Linked DNA regions of Homo sapiens. The protein of the gene in region 1 interacts with the protein of each later gene in a pairwise test. Each region holds a gene or a part of one and is shown on either strand. Other genes may lie near its edges.

The links. The genes of interacting proteins can lie anywhere in the genome.
Region 2: the proteins of APOA5 (region 1) and MORN4 interact in binary tests that used the Homo sapiens proteins (3 or more experiments, as listed by UniProt).

Annotation. Positions count from the first base shown.
Region 1 is NC_000011.10:116,789,756-116,793,504, reverse strand, and holds the start of APOA5 (apolipoprotein A-V precursor), read left to right. Parts: upstream 1-1,625; 5' UTR 1,626-1,644; coding exon 1,645-1,693; intron 1,694-1,807; coding exon 1,808-1,919; intron 1,920-2,437; coding exon 2,438-3,377; 3' UTR 3,378-3,749. UniProt on the Homo sapiens protein: Minor apolipoprotein mainly associated with HDL and to a lesser extent with VLDL. May also be associated with chylomicrons.
Region 2 is NC_000010.11:97,623,369-97,627,017, forward strand, and holds part of MORN4 (MORN repeat-containing protein 4), read right to left. Parts: intron 1-3,649. UniProt on the Homo sapiens protein: Plays a role in promoting axonal degeneration following neuronal injury by toxic insult or trauma.

The DNA.
Region 1 (3,749 bases):
ATGTATGCAAGAATATAAAATATACATGTGTGTGTGTATATATATACACACATATATATGTCCCTTGCAGCCAAGTCTAATTCTAACTAATACAAACTAACTCTAAAAAATGAATATATATTCACCAGGGGATAGGCTATTTCAAGCAGAGGGAAGCCTGTATAAAGGCTCAGGGAATGCCGTGGTTTTATGTGGCAGCAGATGAGACTGGAAATGAGTCAGGATGAGCCACAGTGGAGGATGAATTAAATGGGCAGGAGTGTGGTAGAAAGACCTGTTGGAGGCTATGAATGCAATCAAGGTGACAGACAACTGGTGCAATGATGGTAGTGGAAATGGAGGAGAGGGGATTGATTCAAGATGCATTTAGGACCAAGAATCGGGAGCTTGTGAACGTGTGTATGAGTACTGTAGACGGAGTGGGTGTGTCATCAGAGAAGATCTGAGCATTTGGGCTTGCTCTCCTCAGAGGCCCTGCGAGTGGAGTTCAGCTTTTCCTCATGGGGCAAATCTCACTTTCGCTCCAGTTCCTGGGGCTCAGAGTCCCTGGCCCAGATGCCTCTTGCCATCTCATCTTCACCCTGCCTGGCTTCCCTTGCTTGTTCCAGGATTGTTTCATAAAGAGGGATGTGGTTGGTCTTTAACCCTATGAATGCTGGCTGAGGATGCCTGCGGAACCTGTAGTGAAGCTTTCAGGGGCTGCTCGGGTTCTGGCTGGTAGGTGAACACTGTCCATCTTGCCGGCTGGGACACAGTGACTCTGGGTAGTTGTGTAAGAGAGGGGCCCTTGGCAGACAAACAGGTTCTTCTCTGTTGGTGGGCCAGCCAGCAGGTCAGTGGGAAGGTTAAAGGTCATGGGGTTTGGGAGAAACTGGGTGAGGAGTTCAGCCCCATCCCCCGTAAAGCTCCTGGGAAGCACTTCTCTACTGGGGCAGCCCCTGATACCAGGGCACTCATTAACCCTCTGGGTGCCAGGGAAAGGGCAGGAGGTGAGTGCTGGGAGGCAGCTGAGGTCAACTTCTTTTGAACTTCCACGTGGTATTTACTCAGAGCAATTGGTGCCAGAGGCTCAGGGCCCTGGAGTATAAAGCAGAATGTCTGCTCTCTGTGCCCAGACGTGAGCAGGTGAGCAGCTGGGGCAGAGGGATGGGGGTCACAGTCCTAAGGGAGGGCATTGCAGGTGGCCTCAGGGGAGAGCCTGGGGTGGCCCCTAAGACGTCCTCTTGGAACATTTTGGCAGAGTTGCCTCTTCGCCCTCATTATGGCTCAGTTTTTCCACCATGAAATGGGAGGGAGGGAGACAGGTGGGCAGGGGAGAGGTGGTAGAAGTGGCCTAGAGAACTGTTCCTGGGGTCTGGGACCTTTGCGAAGGGGTTAGAGCACCACGCTCCCTGCTATGTGACTGAGGTAGCAAGAGCACGCCCTCTTCCCATGTCTGAGGAAGACACCCTAGCCTCCTTGACTCACCTAGGTCAGTCCTCTTGAGCCCCAACAGCTCTGTGCTCCCCAGCCCAAGGAAGGGGTAACAGGATTTCGGGCAGTTGCCCCTGCAGAGGCCCCCTGGGCAAGTCCCCTGCGCCATGTCCCTTCGTCTCCTTCTTCCCCTAACCAGGCCTCCCTCCACCTGTCTTCTCAGAGCAGGTAATGGCAAGCATGGCTGCCGTGCTCACCTGGGCTCTGGCTCTTCTTTCAGGTGGGTCTCCGACCCTGACTTCAACGTGGGGGTGTGGGTGGAGGCTGGCCAGAGGGCCCTGTCCACCCTGGGGGAGGAGAGCCCAGGCCCTGATTACCTAGTCCCTCTCCACAGCGTTTTCGGCCACCCAGGCACGGAAAGGCTTCTGGGACTACTTCAGCCAGACCAGCGGGGACAAAGGCAGGGTGGAGCAGATCCATCAGCAGAAGATGGCTCGCGAGCCCGCGTGAGTGCCCAGGGGAAGGGGTGTAGGCGAAGGGAGGAGACAGCTGGGCCATGCCATGATGACCTGCCTCTGCTGCCTCAACCTCTGTGGCCGCTGCTGGGACAGAGGAAAGGAGCGGTGCTAGCTCTGTCTGCAGATCCCGGCCATCCTGGGCTCTTTAGCGCCCTCTGCCTGCAGCCCCCGCCTTGACAACTCCGTAGCTGTTGCCCCCTTGCTCACTGAGGCGCGGGACCTGGGATCAATCGGGAGGACGCCCGCTGCAGTCCCCAGAATCAAAGGATGATGTGGCGCATCTATGTTTCTTTGGAGAGTGTTGTAGGTCTGGATTTGTATGGGCAATGTGTTTGTGCTTCGTGCGTGAGTTGTTACTGGCCAGGGCTAGGACAAGAGCCCTCGACCCTGGGGCCAACGCCCTGCGTCCTTGGTTCCCCCAGAGGATCAGTGCGCGATGACTTGGGGACAAAGGAGATGATGGAGGCTAGCAGTCTGACGGCCTGGATATCTGTCCCCTTCTCCAGGACCCTGAAAGACAGCCTTGAGCAAGACCTCAACAATATGAACAAGTTCCTGGAAAAGCTGAGGCCTCTGAGTGGGAGCGAGGCTCCTCGGCTCCCACAGGACCCGGTGGGCATGCGGCGGCAGCTGCAGGAGGAGTTGGAGGAGGTGAAGGCTCGCCTCCAGCCCTACATGGCAGAGGCGCACGAGCTGGTGGGCTGGAATTTGGAGGGCTTGCGGCAGCAACTGAAGCCCTACACGATGGATCTGATGGAGCAGGTGGCCCTGCGCGTGCAGGAGCTGCAGGAGCAGTTGCGCGTGGTGGGGGAAGACACCAAGGCCCAGTTGCTGGGGGGCGTGGACGAGGCTTGGGCTTTGCTGCAGGGACTGCAGAGCCGCGTGGTGCACCACACCGGCCGCTTCAAAGAGCTCTTCCACCCATACGCCGAGAGCCTGGTGAGCGGCATCGGGCGCCACGTGCAGGAGCTGCACCGCAGTGTGGCTCCGCACGCCCCCGCCAGCCCCGCGCGCCTCAGTCGCTGCGTGCAGGTGCTCTCCCGGAAGCTCACGCTCAAGGCCAAGGCCCTGCACGCACGCATCCAGCAGAACCTGGACCAGCTGCGCGAAGAGCTCAGCAGAGCCTTTGCAGGCACTGGGACTGAGGAAGGGGCCGGCCCGGACCCCCAGATGCTCTCCGAGGAGGTGCGCCAGCGACTTCAGGCTTTCCGCCAGGACACCTACCTGCAGATAGCTGCCTTCACTCGCGCCATCGACCAGGAGACTGAGGAGGTCCAGCAGCAGCTGGCGCCACCTCCACCAGGCCACAGTGCCTTCGCCCCAGAGTTTCAACAAACAGACAGTGGCAAGGTTCTGAGCAAGCTGCAGGCCCGTCTGGATGACCTGTGGGAAGACATCACTCACAGCCTTCATGACCAGGGCCACAGCCATCTGGGGGACCCCTGAGGATCTACCTGCCCAGGCCCATTCCCAGCTCCTTGTCTGGGGAGCCTTGGCTCTGAGCCTCTAGCATGGTTCAGTCCTTGAAAGTGGCCTGTTGGGTGGAGGGTGGAAGGTCCTGTGCAGGACAGGGAGGCCACCAAAGGGGCTGCTGTCTCCTGCACATCCAGCCTCCTGCGACTCCCCAATCTGGATGCATTACATTCACCAGGCTTTGCAAACCCAGCCTCCCAGTGCTCATTTGGGAATGCTCATGAGTTACTCCATTCAAGGGTGAGGGAGTAGGGAGGGAGAGGCACCATGCATGTGGGTGATTATCTGCAAGCCTGTTTGCCGTGATGCTGGAAGCCTGTGCCACTACATCCTGGAGTTTGGCTC
Region 2 (3,649 bases), on another chromosome or scaffold:
CAGGAGTCTGAGGCTGCAGTAAGTCATGACAGTGCCACTACAGCCTGGGTGACAGAGCGAGACCCTGTCCCCCTCCAAAAAAAAAGTCCCCTCTGATTAATAAGTAACCTAGAGTCTGACCCTCAGGCATCTGACTGAGTTCCAACAGGACAAGGACACATTCTCCTCAGAGTACTGGGGCCAGACCTGGTGGAGAAACAGGAAAGAATTCTTTTTTCTTTTAGAGACAGGGTCTCATTATGTTACCCAGGCTGGACTTGAACTCCTAGGTTCAAGAGATCCTCCAATCCCCTCTTAGACTTCTGAGTAGCTGGAACTACAGGTGCATGCCACTGCTCCCAGCTCAAAACAAGACGGGATTCTTTTTTTTTTTTTTTCTTTTTTTGAGACAGAGTCTCACTCTGTTGCCCAGGCTGGAGTGCAGTGGCATGATCTCGGCTGACTGCAAGCTCTGCCTCCCGGGTTCATGCCATTCTCCTGCCTCAGCCTCCCGAGTAGCTGGGACTACAGGTGCCCACCACGACGCCCCACTAACTTTTTGTATTTTTTAGTAGAGATGGAGTTTCACCGTGTTAGCCAGGATGGTCTCAATCTCCTGACCTCGTGATCCGCCCGCCTTGGCCTCCCAAAGTGCTGGGATTACAGGCATGAGCCACCGTGCCTGGCCGCAAGATGGGATTCTTAAATCTCGGGGGCCTGGCGCCAACAGCTAGCTTCCTTTTCCTTCAAGTCCCAGGGAAGCCAAAACCTCATCCAGTCAAGATGGAGTTCCAAAGAGTGGGTTCCATAGTTTCATAGCACAAAAGGGGTCTGGTATATTTTATGCAAAAGTGATGCTTTAAATGTTCAACTAAAACAACCCATATGTTAAATTTGCTTTCTCCACATTGTCATGGTGGACAGTGCTAGATTATTTATATTTCAATTCAGGTGGCACAACCCTCTCTAATAATCAATTGCACTAACCCCAGAGAAGCTGTCTGAAATACCTTTATAACAGAAGCTAACATTTACTGACCTCTTACTGTGTTCCATCAGTGTTGTTTATTTGTTTTGTTTTAAGAGATGGGGTCTCACTCAGTTACCCAGCCTGGAATGCAGTAGTGTGATTGTGATTAGAGCTCACTGCAGTCTCAAACTTCTGGGCTAAAGTGATCCTCCCGCTTCATCCTCTCCAGTAGCTGGGACTAGAGGTGTGTGCCAACACACCCAGCTACTTTTCAAATTTTTTGTTGAGATGGGTATCGCTATGGTGCCTAGACTGGTCCCGAACTCCTGGCCTCAAGTGATTCTTCCTCATCAGCTTCCCAAGTAGCTGGGATTACTGGTGTGAGCATCAGTGTTTTTTGTTTTGTTTTGTTTTTGAGACGGAGTTTCACTGTTATTCTTCCCCAGGCTGGAGTGCAATGGCGCGATCTTTGCTCACTCCAACCTCCGCCTCAGCCTCCCAAGTAGCTGGGATTACAGGCATGCGCCACCACGCCTGGCTAATTTTGTATTTTCAGTAGAGATGGGGTTTCACCATGTTGGTCAGGTGACCTCAGGTGATCCTGACCTCAGGTGATCCACCTGCCGCGGCCTCCCAAAGTGCTAAGAATACAGGCGTGAGTCACCGCACACGGCATGAGCATCAGTGTTTTTAAAATATATTATCTAATTTCATCTCACAACAACTTTTTGGGGTGGGTATTATTATTATTTCCACTTTAGGGATGAGGAAACTAAGGTGCAGAGAGGATAAGTAAATTAACTAAGGTCATACATGTGGAAACTAACACGTGAAAGTTAGAATCAGAGCTCTGACAGCTGGCCTTGCTGGCACAAGTTCTTACAGTAACTTGCTAACTTATACCATACTATCCTATCTGGCCTCCCAGGATAATATGGTGGTGTTGTAGACTCTGAGCACAGGAGGACTTGAGTTCAAATATGAGTTCACTGTATAATTATGGGCAAGGTATTTAAGTATCTCTAAATCTCAGTCTCCTCATCTGTAAAGTGGAGATAAGATATGTATTTCACATAGTTGGCAGGTGGATTAAATTAAATATCTGAGAGTCAGTGGGTGACAGAAAAGAAAAATAAAAGAAAGAAAATGACACACACGTAAGTACCTAGAACACTGCTAGGGCCTGTCCACTAAATGTTAGTTTCTTTCCTCTTTCAAAGTTTTACACTTAAACTCACACATATACTTACTGTAATGAAAACTTCTCTAGGTCTTTCCTCAGTAAAAACTGCTACCAATGTAATTCAAACAACACTTTGAAAAAGAAAATCTCAGCAATTTTGACTAAAGAGCTGAATACTAAGTAGAGGAAAAACAAACTATAGTTGCCACCCATCCACTCTTTATCAACATCCTACAGGATATTTTTATTTTGGCCTCATGTCATAACGATTTTTTGTTTTTTAAGGAGACAGTGTGTCGCTCTGTTGCCCATGCTGGTGTGCAATCGCTTGATCATAACTCACTGCAACCCTGAACTTGTGGGCTCAAGCAACCCTTCTGCCCCAGCCTCCCAAGTAGCTAGGACTATAGGCACACACCACCATGCCCAACTAACTTTTTTGTAGAGACCGTGTCCCACTATGTTGCCCAGGCTAATCTCAAACTCCTAGCCTCAAGCAATCTCTGGCCTTGGCCTCCGAAAGTGCTAGGATTATAAGCATGAGCCACCACACCCAGCCTCATGCCTTTTTTTTTTTTTTTTTTAAAGAGAACAAGCGGGCTGGGCACAGTGGCTCACGCCTGTAATCCCAGCACTTTGGGAGGCTAAGATGGATCACCTGAGGTCAGGAGTTCGAGACCAGCCTGGCCAACATGGTGAAGCCCTGTCTTTACTAAAAACACAAAAATTAGCCAGGCGTGGTGGCACATGCCTGTAGTCCCAGCTACTTGAGAGGCTGAGACAGGAGAATCACTTGAATCTGGGAGGTGGAGGTTGCAGTGAGCCAAGATCATGCCACTGGTCTCCAGCCTGGGTGACAGAGCGAGACTCTGACTCAAAAATAATAATAATAATAATCATAATCATAATCATAATCATAATCATAATCATAATATGTTCTGATGCTTGTTCTCTCTCTTTTTTTTTTTTTCTTGAAACGGAGTCTTGCTCTGTGGCCCAGACTGGAGTGCAGTGGTGCAATGTCGGCTCACTGCAACCTCCACCTCCCGAGTTCAAGTAATTCTCCTGCCTCAGCCTCTCGAATAGCTGGGATTTCAGGTGACCGTCACCATGGCTGGCTAATTTTTGTATTTTTAGTAGAGACAGGGCTTCACCATGTTGGTCAGGCTGGTCTCGAACTCCTGACCTCAGGTGAGCCACCCATCTCAGCCTTCCAAAGTGCTGGGATTACAGGCATGAGCCACTGTGCCCAGATTTTTTTTTTTTTTTTTTTTTAGACAGAGTTTCATTCCTGTGGCCCAGGCTGGAGTGCAATGGTGCAGTCTCAGCTCACTGTAACCTCTGCCTCCCAGGTTCAAGCGATTCTCTTGCCCCAGCCTCCCAAGTAGCTGGGATTACAGGCCCCTGCCACCACGCCCAGCTAATTTTGTATTTTCAGTAGAGACAGGGTTTTACCATGTTGGCCAGGCTGGTCTTGAACTCCTGACCTCAGGTGATCCTCCCGCCTTGGCCTCCCA